Linked DNA regions of Homo sapiens: region 1 is linked to region 2. Evidence: fine-mapped expression QTL. Tissue or cell type: whole blood. Region 2 holds a variant in brackets; the other region holds the start of a gene. All regions are shown on one strand. Distances are between the middles of the regions.

Region 1 (5,377 bases), 48 kb after region 2:
ATCTTGGTCCACTGCAACATGTGCCTCCTGGGTTCAAGCGATTCTCCTGCCTCAGCTTTTGAGTAGCTGGGATTACAGGCGCCCACCACTATGCCCGACTAATTTTTGTATTTTTAGTAGAGATGGGGTTTCAACATGTTTGCCAGGCTGATCTCCAACTCCTGACCTCAAGTGATCTTCCAACCTCAGCCTCCCAAAGTGTTGGGATTACAGGCGTGAGCCACTGCGCCCGGCCTCATTTTATTTTTAAAAATTGTTCTCTTTACCTGAGATGCCCTTCTACTCCTTCTGTCCACTTACCAAACCCTAACATATCAGGACGTGTCTGAAGTGACCTCTTACATGAAGTCTACCTTGACTCCATCCTCAATCCTCAATATTGTTCCTTTTAAATGCCTTAGGCAAGTAGCGTGATATCTAGCACATTCTAGGTACTAAATATTCATCAGCTGTGCTATCTAGCTGCCTCATTCTATGGAAGGCTGAAACAAAAATAGTTTGAAGCAATTATAGACCAAAAGCATGGATGTTTAGCGTCCCTCTCTTCACTGCCTTCTGAGATGCCTGGCAGAGGACAACATAAGCTGAAAAAGTCCCCATTCTTTTATTCATAAAGTACATCGTTAGTGCATTTTTTTTTTTTTTTTTTGAACAATGTCTTGCTCTGTTGCCAAGCTAGAGTGCAATGGCATGATCAGGGCTCACTGCAGTCTCAACTTCCTTGCCTCAGGTGATCCTCCCAACCTCAGCCTCCCAAGTAGCTGGGACTACAGGTGTGTGCCACCAAGGCCAGCTAATTTTTTTGATTTTTTTTTTTAGTAGAGACAACGACTTGCCACGTTGCCCAGGGTGGCCTAGAACTCCCGAGCTCAAGGAATCCTCTGCCTCCCAAAGTGCTGGGATTACAGGTGTGAGTGAGCCACTGTGCCAGGCCCCAGGGCATATCTTTACAAGCTGCTTTGAAGTCCATAGCCTTAATACATTATTGAATTATCTGGATCTCAGATTTTCAGTCTTTTAGGGACAACTATGCTACTGGGTCTCCAGCCAAAGCCACCTTGATGACAAGAGGAAAAGAGACTAAATGGAAGAAATGACAATCAAATATAAGTCTGTTTGCAGATCAGCACTATTTAATGGAAATGAAGGCCACATATATAACTTAAAATTTTCTAGTGGTCACATTTAAAAAAACAGGTAAAATTAATTTTAATAGTATATTTTCTTTTTTTTTTTTTTGAGACAGGATCTCGTTCTGTCAACGCAGGCTGGAGTGCAGTAGTGAGATGACGACTCACGGCAGCCTCCACCTCCCACTCCAGGGATCCTCCTACCTCAGTCTCCGGAGTAACTGGGACCACAGGCAGGAACTACCATGCCCAGCTAATTTTTTTTTCTTTTTTCTTTTTTTTTTTTTTTTTTTAACTTTTTGTATAGACGGGGGTTTCCCTATATTGCCCAGGCTGGTCTCTAACTCCTGCCCAAGCGATCCTCCCACCTCAGCCTCCTAAAGTGCTGGATCACAGGTGTGAGACACCGTGCCCGGCTTACATTTTCTTTACTGCAATATATCCAAAATATTTCAACGTGCAATCAATATAAAAAGTGATCAGTGAGGTATTTCACATTCGTCGAACTGACACCCGTGCGTATTTTGCACTTCCAGTGCCTCCTAAACGAACTAGCCTCATTTCAAGTGCTCAGTGGCCCTAAGTGGCCAAGGGGCTACACTAATGGACAGGGCAGGTCTAGGTCCTGTGTTTTTCCCATTCGGAGTCACCAGTCCTACTAGACATTCTGTGAAAAAAGGGAAAGCCTTTGTGAAACTTCCTGAGGACTCACAAATGCACATTATTACATTTAGAGTTTAGAACTTTGGTTAAGGCAGCGTCCTGTATTTGATTCTTTCCCTCTTCCTCTCCGCTAACCCCCTATGTGACACCGTAGAACTTATAATTCGTTCTAATTCGCAGATGGAGGGCATATGAGAGAGGAGGCTCTGCCTCAAACACTTTCTCAAACTTTTGCCGAGGGGTGGCGAGAAGGTAGACTTCCAGGTCCCACCCGATATAGATTAAGGGCTGGAAACACAGTCAAGGGGAAATTATGACCAAGACAACCTTTGCTAAAATGCCAGCGGTGACTGCCATTGATGTTCCTATAAAAGGTCAGCTCTGTCAGGAAGTTCCAGTGCATCATTTGTTCAAAAGTAAAATCAGCCCGTGTTCCAGAATTCGCGGACTGTCGTCAGTCCTAACCTACACATTTATTCGTTCAACAAATATTTCAGCGCCTGGGTCAGGCATCAGGAATACACTGGTGGTTAAAACAGACGGAAAGCTCCATCTGGTGGGACGCAGTCTGGGAGGGAAAGGGAGTCCTGGGGACATGTTTTCGTCGGCTCTAGGCTAAGCACCTCTCGCCGTAGCACACGGGGTCGGCACCGCTGCCCGGCGAAGTACTTGTTACTTTGCAGTCCAGTACGAAGCGGCGGAGTAACCGGTTCCAACCCAAGGCAGCGACTCATGCGAGTCGTTCTAAGCGCCGCGCTGGGGGGTACATACGGTGCACGCGTGGGTGCCTCACCCCCTGGCAGCGCCTCCAGGGACGCTGCTCCGGGAAAGAGCAGCCGCCGCGACCTCAGGCGGCGGGAAAGGTGGGACCTCACAATGCGCCGGAAGCGGTGCCTCGTGGCTTGGGATCTCTCCGGGTTCTTCCTTGCGCCGTCCACGCCGCACTGCCCACGAGGGCGTCCCCGCCCGAGGGACAACTCACCGCCCGGGGCCTCCCTGAGCGTTCCCTTCCACCATCTGACACCCACTGCTAAGTGTGAGAGGACCCAGGGGGTAATTGCCGGGCCGCAGGCGGCCTTAGGAACTCCGCTTCCCGTGAGGCTTCGCGGCGGACGGCGCTGGTGCGCAGGCGCACGCACGGCGTGCGTGGTGGCGTCAGCAGTTCTAGAACGTTGCTGTGGTAGCGCTCGGGCGCCATGTTAGGACGAAGGGGAAGGAGGAGAAGCGCTTAAAGCGGCGGGAGCGGTGCGGGAGAGGGGTTGGACCCAGGGCTGAGGCAGGCCCCCCCCTCCCTCCCGCCTCAGTGGATCATGCCCAGGGCGGCAGCGGCGGCGGTTGCGGGGGGGAAGTGACTGGGCGGTGCCGGCGCCGGAGACGATGCCGTTGTAAGTAATTTGTATTCTGTTTTCTTTCGCTCGCCGGCTGGGCCTTGGGGGGCGTCCGGGAAGGGGAAGAGGTAGGCGGAGAGGGTGGCACGCGAGCCCGACCCTCCCCGCTGGTAGGAGGCAGGCAGGACTGGGGACCTTCCTGTTTCCTCGCTCGCTCGCCGCCGCACTTCCCCCCGTGTGCTGGGTTCCCGCGTCCCCCGACCCTTCCTGGCTGGGTCAGCTGCCGTCGGGCCGGGGGCCTTCCCCTTCCGGAATTGCTGGCGGAACCTCTAACTCGCCCGGCCACTCCAGCTTCTCCGCCCCGTCCACAAAGAAAATCAAAACAACCCGAAAACAAAACATTGCCTGGTGGTGGGGAACCACGACCCTGCTGCACGCGGGATCAGCACTTGGGGTTCGGGCTCGCTCTCGGCGCCCCTCGGGCCCATTCGATGTTGCTTTTCTGTTCCTGGTCTGTCTCAGTTTGCTCACTCTCTTCCTCCCATTTCCAGATGCCTGTCTTGTGCGCCGGAGTTAGCCCCTTTCCACTGACCTTGTCTGAATGTAGGAGCACGAGTTAAAAGCCCAGCTTTGAGCGTTGAGTCCGCCTGCCTCCACCTCCGCCTCCCTAGCATTCACAGGCGGTCGGAGAAGGGGGCACTTCACAGGGTGCCCTCCTCCAAAACGACTTATGTATTGCTTTCCCTGTTTTGTTTTGATGGGGTAACCAGGTTTCATTCTGTTTCCTTCTTTCTCTATCTCTGGTGATACTTTTTTTTTCCTGGTTGTAAGGCTTGAAGCTAGTCTCTTTATGCTTTCTAATGCCACTGCGCCTTTTTCTTTTCTTGGTGGGTTTTTAAAAAGTTTTTTTCTCCCCTCCCCCTTTCTGATAATGAGATATAATTTGGCAGCTCATTGCCAGTAGATTACGGATTTTTTTTTTCCTGCAAATATACAGCATTGTAGAGGCCTAAATAGTGAGACTGCATTTCTTCCATTTTTGAATATTGAAGCGTAAGAGTGCCTCTTTGAGACCAGGGACCGAGTTTTCTTCATCTTAGTAGCCTCAAAACGCAACATGTAATTGACACTCAAAGTTTTGGTTAAATTCAGGATAAAGATTTTTGTGGTTTCTAGACATCGAATGTAGTAACTCAGGTCTATTTTTTTTTTGTAAGTAAGGATAATTTCTTTAGCACATAATCACCGATTGTAGTTTTACAATTATATATGTGTGTGAATGTGTTTCTTTACAGGTGAGACTCTAACTTTGGCACAGACCTTAATGACTTCTATCGCAATTTATGTATTTTAAAAGGATTTTCCATGGCTCCCACCCACCCCCTTAGGTTATTAAGAAGTCTATCACATTACTTCTGTGATGAAAACGTTTGTTAGACTTAACTAACTATACAGGTCTAAAATCTTGGAATCTGCATGGTTTCTGTTTATTGATTTTTCCCTTTCATAGAATAAGAGACCCTAGGAGAACTGAGTCTAAGCAAGATTGTTGTGGTGTTTCTCAGTTCAATAGGAGATAAATGTTTGCAGTGATGTCGTGATGACTGCGTTATTAAGTTAACATTTTGCTGTCTTTGAAAAGGGACTTCTTTTTCTGATAATCATACCAGCATTAAAAATGATAGATGTAAACCTTAAAAGGCTTCAATGAAGAAATAACATTAAGTAATTTGTGTCTTATTTCTAGGAATTAAAAGTACTTTTATACCTACTTTCCCCCAACATTCTTTGAAGAGGGAAGGTATACATTTCTGTGAAAGACCTTAGGTATTTCAAATTCTTCGCGAGTTAGTTCAAGTGTGTAAAATGGAAGACGGGGCCAGGCGCGGTGGTTCACGCCTGTAATCCCAGCACTTTGGGAGGCCCAGGCAGGTAAATCGCTTGAGGCCAGGAGTTTGAGATCAGCCTGGGCAACATGGCGAAACTTCATCTCAACAAAAAACACAAGTTAGCTGGGCGTGGTGGCTCATGCCTGTAATCCCAGCTACTTGGGAGGTTGAGGTGGGAGGACTGCTTGAGCCCAGGAGGCTGAGGCTGCAGTGAGCCTTGATCATGCCACTGCGTTCCAGCCTGGGTGACAGAGCGAGACTCAAAAAGTAAGTATACGATAATTACTGTAGTAAACAATAGAGAGACCAAAGAATGCCTAGTTAAAGAAAAATAGGGCTTCTTCCTCATTAAGTTGCTTTGTTTTTC
Region 2 (5,377 bases):
TGAAGGAGAATTTTAATATTCGATGGGCTGCCCAAACAGGATTTGTGGAAAATATCAACACTATCCTCAAGGAGTACAAGCAAAGCAGAGGATTGATGGTAACTATCACTGTTTCCCACTGAAACTTCTGATTCAAGCAAAATGAATCAAACTTCTAGTGTGATGATGCCAACGGAAGTATTTGCTTTTTCAGACGTTCAAATTTCTAATTTCAAGTTTTTCAAATTTGACAAATTTGTCCAGGTCTAACAAATTTACATGTATATCAAATTAATACCTGTGAACCAAACATGAACAGTTTTAAATATTAGATAATAATGTATGCAAATTTATCTAATTTAATAATTAGATAATATCTAATAATGTATGCAAAATTATCTAATTTAAACATTAGATAATAATGTACGCAAATTGCACATGATAGCAAGCTCAAGAGTGATGTCGCAGTGTTGTCCATATAAAGAAGAATATTAAATAGGTAAAAATATCAACTGCCTTACTGGCTGGCTTGTTTCAGTCCTGGGTATACATGTGGGAGGTAGAAGAAACCTGATTACTACTTTGATCTCTTTCTAAGTGGTCAGAGGACTCACTGGTCATTTTAATTATCACAACTTTTCAAGGTAGATATTCTTTTTTAAAAAAGTAATTAATTGAAATGGACAAATAGATTATATACATGTATCCTGTACAACATAAAGTTTTGAAATATGTAGACATTGTGGAATGGCTAAATCGAGCTAATTAACATCCGTGTTAACTCACACACTTATCATTTTTTATGGTGAAAGGTGGATATTCTTATCTATATAGTATAGATTAGGAAACAAAGGCTCAAAGAGATGAAGCAACCTTTTTTTTTTTTATTCAGACAGAGTCTCACTCTGTTGCCCAGGCTGGAGTGCAGCAGTGTGATCTCGGCTCACAGCAACCTTTGCCTCCTGGGTTCAAGTGATTCTCGTGCCTCAGCCTCCTGAGTAGTACCTGAGATTACAGGTGTGCACCATCACATCTGGTTAATTTTTGTAATTTTAGTAGAGACGGGGTTTCACCATGTGGACCAGGCTGGTTTCAAACTCCTGGCCTCAAGCGATCCGCCTGCGTTGGCCTCCCAAAGTGCTGGGATTACATGCTTGAGCCACCGTGCCTGGCTGCATCAACTTTTTCTTTTTCTTTCTTTCTTTCTTTTCTTTTCTTTTTTTTTGAGACAGAGTCTTGCTCCATAGCCCAGGCTGCAGGGCAGTGGCAGGATCTCGGCTCACTGCAACCTCTGCCTCCCAGGTTCAAGTGCCTCAGCCTCCTGAGTAGGTAGCAACTTTTTCAAGGTCACACAGCTAGTCAGAGATTCAGACTAGGTAGGACGCAGACTTAACTAGAATGTCCGCATCTAACTGCAGGGCCGCCACACCTGCCTCTCTGAAATCAGATCAATGAAGCACCTGCGTAGAGCTTTGGATTTATCCCAGGGAAACATTCTAAAGACAAAAGTAGGTCATACATGAGAAAGTGTTTTGAAAACTGTAAAATGGCGTATGTGAGTAACAGGTGTCATCATAACCATAATTATCACTGTTGGAGGGAATGCTCCACATAAGCAAGCATAGTGTCACCATCATATCCTTAGAACCGTATTCTCTTGGAAAAAAAAACATGTCTAGTTAAGAATAAGCAAAACATGTACCACTTAGCAAAAGAAATAATGATCTCTTTAAGCATCTAAGATCCTCATGGTGGCTGTACTGGGAGGTTATCCTGAGATATACACCAACCCAACCTCAGAGGTTAGACTAATGTCCTCTCTAGGTCAACTGTAACAACAACACACAGAGTAGAAATATGACAAGACACTTTGAAGAGACCGTATGGTTCCCGATGAGCAAGACTGGACAAGAATATGATAGAAGGAATAGTATATCTAAAAACTAAATAGGGTATGTCTGTCCCTAGGGGCAGTTAGCCACAGGAAACACTACCGAGGCCAGTGTAGCCCCAGAGGTGTCACTCAGTGACATCCCCAAAAGATGGAGTCTCAAGCCATGCACTTGCGTGATCGCAGTTCCTTTAGCAAGGAAAAGTCATTGCTGCTTCAGAGACAGATGCATCAAGCCACCTTGACCCATTGCTTCCAGTCAGTTCATCCTACTCCCCTTGTTCTGATCAAAGCTCATCAAGCAGCCTTATAAGACTTGGCTCCCAGTGTCCATCTGCTTGAAGGGAGTAAATATACCAAATATGTGGACTTGGAGTATTTGATTCAGTGGCAGTCATACTTCTCATTGTAAATAAATGAATAGATTGGCATCCTGGTTTTACACCTGGATAAAGTGAGCCCATGCCAGGAGAAAGGACCCACCCTTGGTCCGTGGACAAATGAGACACCTGAACTTGCTCAGTTGACAGCCGGTTCTCAGGCCTTGGTGAATGCACTGCACCTCTCCAGGGGCCCAGCCCTGCTCGTCAGGACTCAGTTCCAGAACTGCTTTCCTTCACACCTGCCTCCTTCCACTGCCTGCCATCATCCCTATCTGACGGGGCCGCACTCCTCACCAGAACCATCCATCCTCCCTATCCGATGGGACCACACGCGCCAGAGCCATCCATCATCCCTATCCGATGGGACAGCGCTGCTAGCCAGAACCATCCTGTGTGCTGCCTACTTCCTTCACTGTCTTGGTTTCCTCACCTGTCAAATGGTAGTAATGATATTAACCAACTTGGTGGATGAAATTATATAATCTGTAAGCATACAGACACTCTACCAATGCAAATCCTTTTCATGAGCGCAATTCTAAAATTTACCTTGCAAAATATGGGCCCTCAGTTTCACAACTATTTGGACCATTTTGAAATAAATAACTATATGTTACTGATATTTTGACCTCTGTTAGAAATGAATATTTACTCATTGATTATGAACACCATAGGGCTTCTTTAGCATTCAATCAAGTTTATCAGCAGGAGAAATGGTGTTTTTTTTTTTAATGAGTATGTTTTTAAAAATTAGAATAA[C/A]TTTTTTAAAAATTGAGACAGGGTGTTGCTCTGTTGCCCAGGTTGGAGTGCAGTGGTAGGACCACGACTCACTGCAGCCTAGACCCTCCTGGGCTTAAGCACTCCTCCTGCCTCAGCCTGGGCCACCAAGTAGCTGGGACCACAGGCACATGTGACTATGCCCAGCCAATATTTAAAAAAAATTTTTTTTTTTTTTTGTAGAGACAGGGATCTCACTATATTGCTGAAGCTGGCCTCGTTTTTTGTAGAGAGGGGGACCTCACTATATTGCTCAGGCTCGCCTCAAACTCCTGGGCTCCAGGGATCCTCCCACCTCAGCCTCCTAAACTGCTGGGATTACAGGCATGAGCCACGATGCCTGGCCTAAAAATTAGAATAAATTAACTGTGTTAAAAATAATTGGCCAGGTGCGATGGCTCACACCTGTAATCCTACCACTTTGGGAGGTCGAGGCGGGTGGATCACCTGAGGTCAGGAGTTCGAGACCAGCCTGGCTAACATGGTGAAACCCCATTTCTACTAAAAATACCAAAAAATTAGCTGGGTGTGGTGGCGTGCGCCTGTAATCCCAGGTGCTCAGGAGGCTAAGGCAGGAGAATCGCTTGAACCCAGGAGGCAGAGGTTGCAGTGAGCCGAGATCATGCCATTGCACTCCAGCTTGGGCAACAAGAGTGAAACTCTGTCTCAAAATAGTAACAATAATAATAGTAATTAAAGACCAAGCCAGGTGCAGTGGCTCACACCTGTTATCCCAACGCTTTGGGAGGCTGAGGCGGGAGGATTCCTTGAGTGCAGGAGTTTGGGACCAGCCTGAACCACACAGTGAGATCTCATCTCTACAGAAAGTATAAAAATCAGACGAACATGGTGGTGTGCCTCTGTAGTCCCAGATACTTGTGAGGCTGAGCTGGGAGGATGGTTTGAGCCCAGGAGTTCGAGGCTGCAGTGATCTGTGATTGCACCACTACACTCCAGCCTGGGCAACAGTGGGAGCACCTATCTCAATACAAAACAAAACAAAACAAAACAAATAATTAAAGACCAAATTCAGTACAGAAATAGTATTCAGGCAGTAAATTAGGCCCTTTGCACACCAAACCAGAAATTCTTTGCTTTGTTACTGTTCCAAAGGTAGCACAATGCCCTGTACTGTGCACTGTCTTGTGAAACTGGCAGTGTGTAATTCCTGAGCACTTACTCTTTAGTGATCTGAGTTGTTCCTGATACATCTTCTTATGTGGCCCTATCCACCAGCCCCAGATCAGCCCATGTAGTTGGTGCCTATTGAATACCTACTGAATGAATGGACATGAACCAGAACATGAACTGTCTGACCAGGCGGCAGACGCTTTCGGGATGATGTGGCAGTCACCCTGGTGGTGGTGGTGGGGGTAGAGGCGTGACTCTGGAGTCTCCACAGAAGAGTGAGAGTTAGCCTGCAGGGTCCAGAGACTTTATTTTCAAAAGGCACTCCCAGCCAGACGTGGTGGCTCACATCTGTAATCCCAGCACTTTGGGAAGCTGAGGTGGGTAGATCACTTGAGACCAGGAGTTTGAGACCAGCCTGGCCAACATGGAGAAAACCCGTCTCTACAAAAAATACAAAAATTAGCTGGGCATGGTGGTGCGCACATGTAGTCTCAGCTACTCGGGAGGCTGAGGCAGAGAATCGCTTGAACCTGGGAGGTGGAGGTTGCAGTAAGCGAGATCATGCCACTGCACTACAGCCCGAGCAACAGAGTGAGAGACTCTGTCTCAAAAAAAAAAAAAAAAAAAAAAAGCACTCCCCTGAAATAAAAAACCACTCTGTCTAGCTACAGATCATTCAGAGCTTGCTGTATGTTCCTTACTCTCTCCTCTTTCAGCCAATCAAGATCTGCATTCTTGGTCCCCCTGCTGTGGGAAAATCCAGTATTGCTAAAGAATTGGCCAACTACTACAAACTGCATCACATCCAACTGAAGGATGTCATTTCTGAAGCCATAGCAAAACTGGTAACACTTTAAACTATTTTCCTGGGCATTTTAATTAATTACTGTATTGTTCTTAGGGTATAAAGATGTATATGATTCGAATTAGCCAGCTGGATGCAGTTTAGATGATCCCAATTTTGTTGGCAACATCCAAGGTGTCCTAATCAGTAGCCAGGGGAACATCTGGCTTCTCTTCCCCCTCAGGCCTGAGAAGAGTGTTGACCTTGGCCACACTGGCGTCAGAGAGCTTCTTCACAGCCTGTTGGATGTGGCGCTTGCTGGCTTTGGCACCCGCAATGAACACAAGTGTGTGTTTGTGTCGTCTTCTTCGTGGCCAACTCAGGGGTCGGGGGATGTTAGTTGATGATGGCAGAGTGGTCATGCTGGTTTCTCCT

Evidence for each region.
Region 1: PAPOLA starts here. The variant in region 2 is fine-mapped to the expression of PAPOLA in whole blood (TOPMed, PIP 0.96).

Annotation. Positions count from the first base shown.
Region 1 is chr14:96,499,423-96,504,799 of GRCh38, forward strand. It overlaps PAPOLA (poly(A) polymerase alpha), which reads left to right and starts at 2,960. Exons shown (of 22, transcript NM_032632.5): 1 at 2,960-3,178. The coding sequence starts at 3,171. PAPOLA-DT (PAPOLA divergent transcript) reads right to left here and starts at 2,904. Exons shown (of 1, transcript NR_122121.1): 1 at 2,226-2,904. RefSeq lists enhancers at 1,665-2,261, 2,262-2,856, 2,774-3,033, 2,857-3,452, 4,608-5,109 and 1 more and silencers at 2,372-2,715, 3,154-3,273.
Region 2 is chr14:96,451,473-96,456,849 of GRCh38, forward strand. AK7 (adenylate kinase 7) reads left to right here. Exons shown (of 18, transcript NM_152327.5): 10 at 1-98; 11 at 4,875-5,003. It also overlaps the pseudogene RPL23AP10. Among named protein-coding and RNA genes, the nearest start is that of PAPOLA-DT, 48 kb to the right of the region's middle. The variant C/A (reference allele first, on the strand shown) is at 3,010.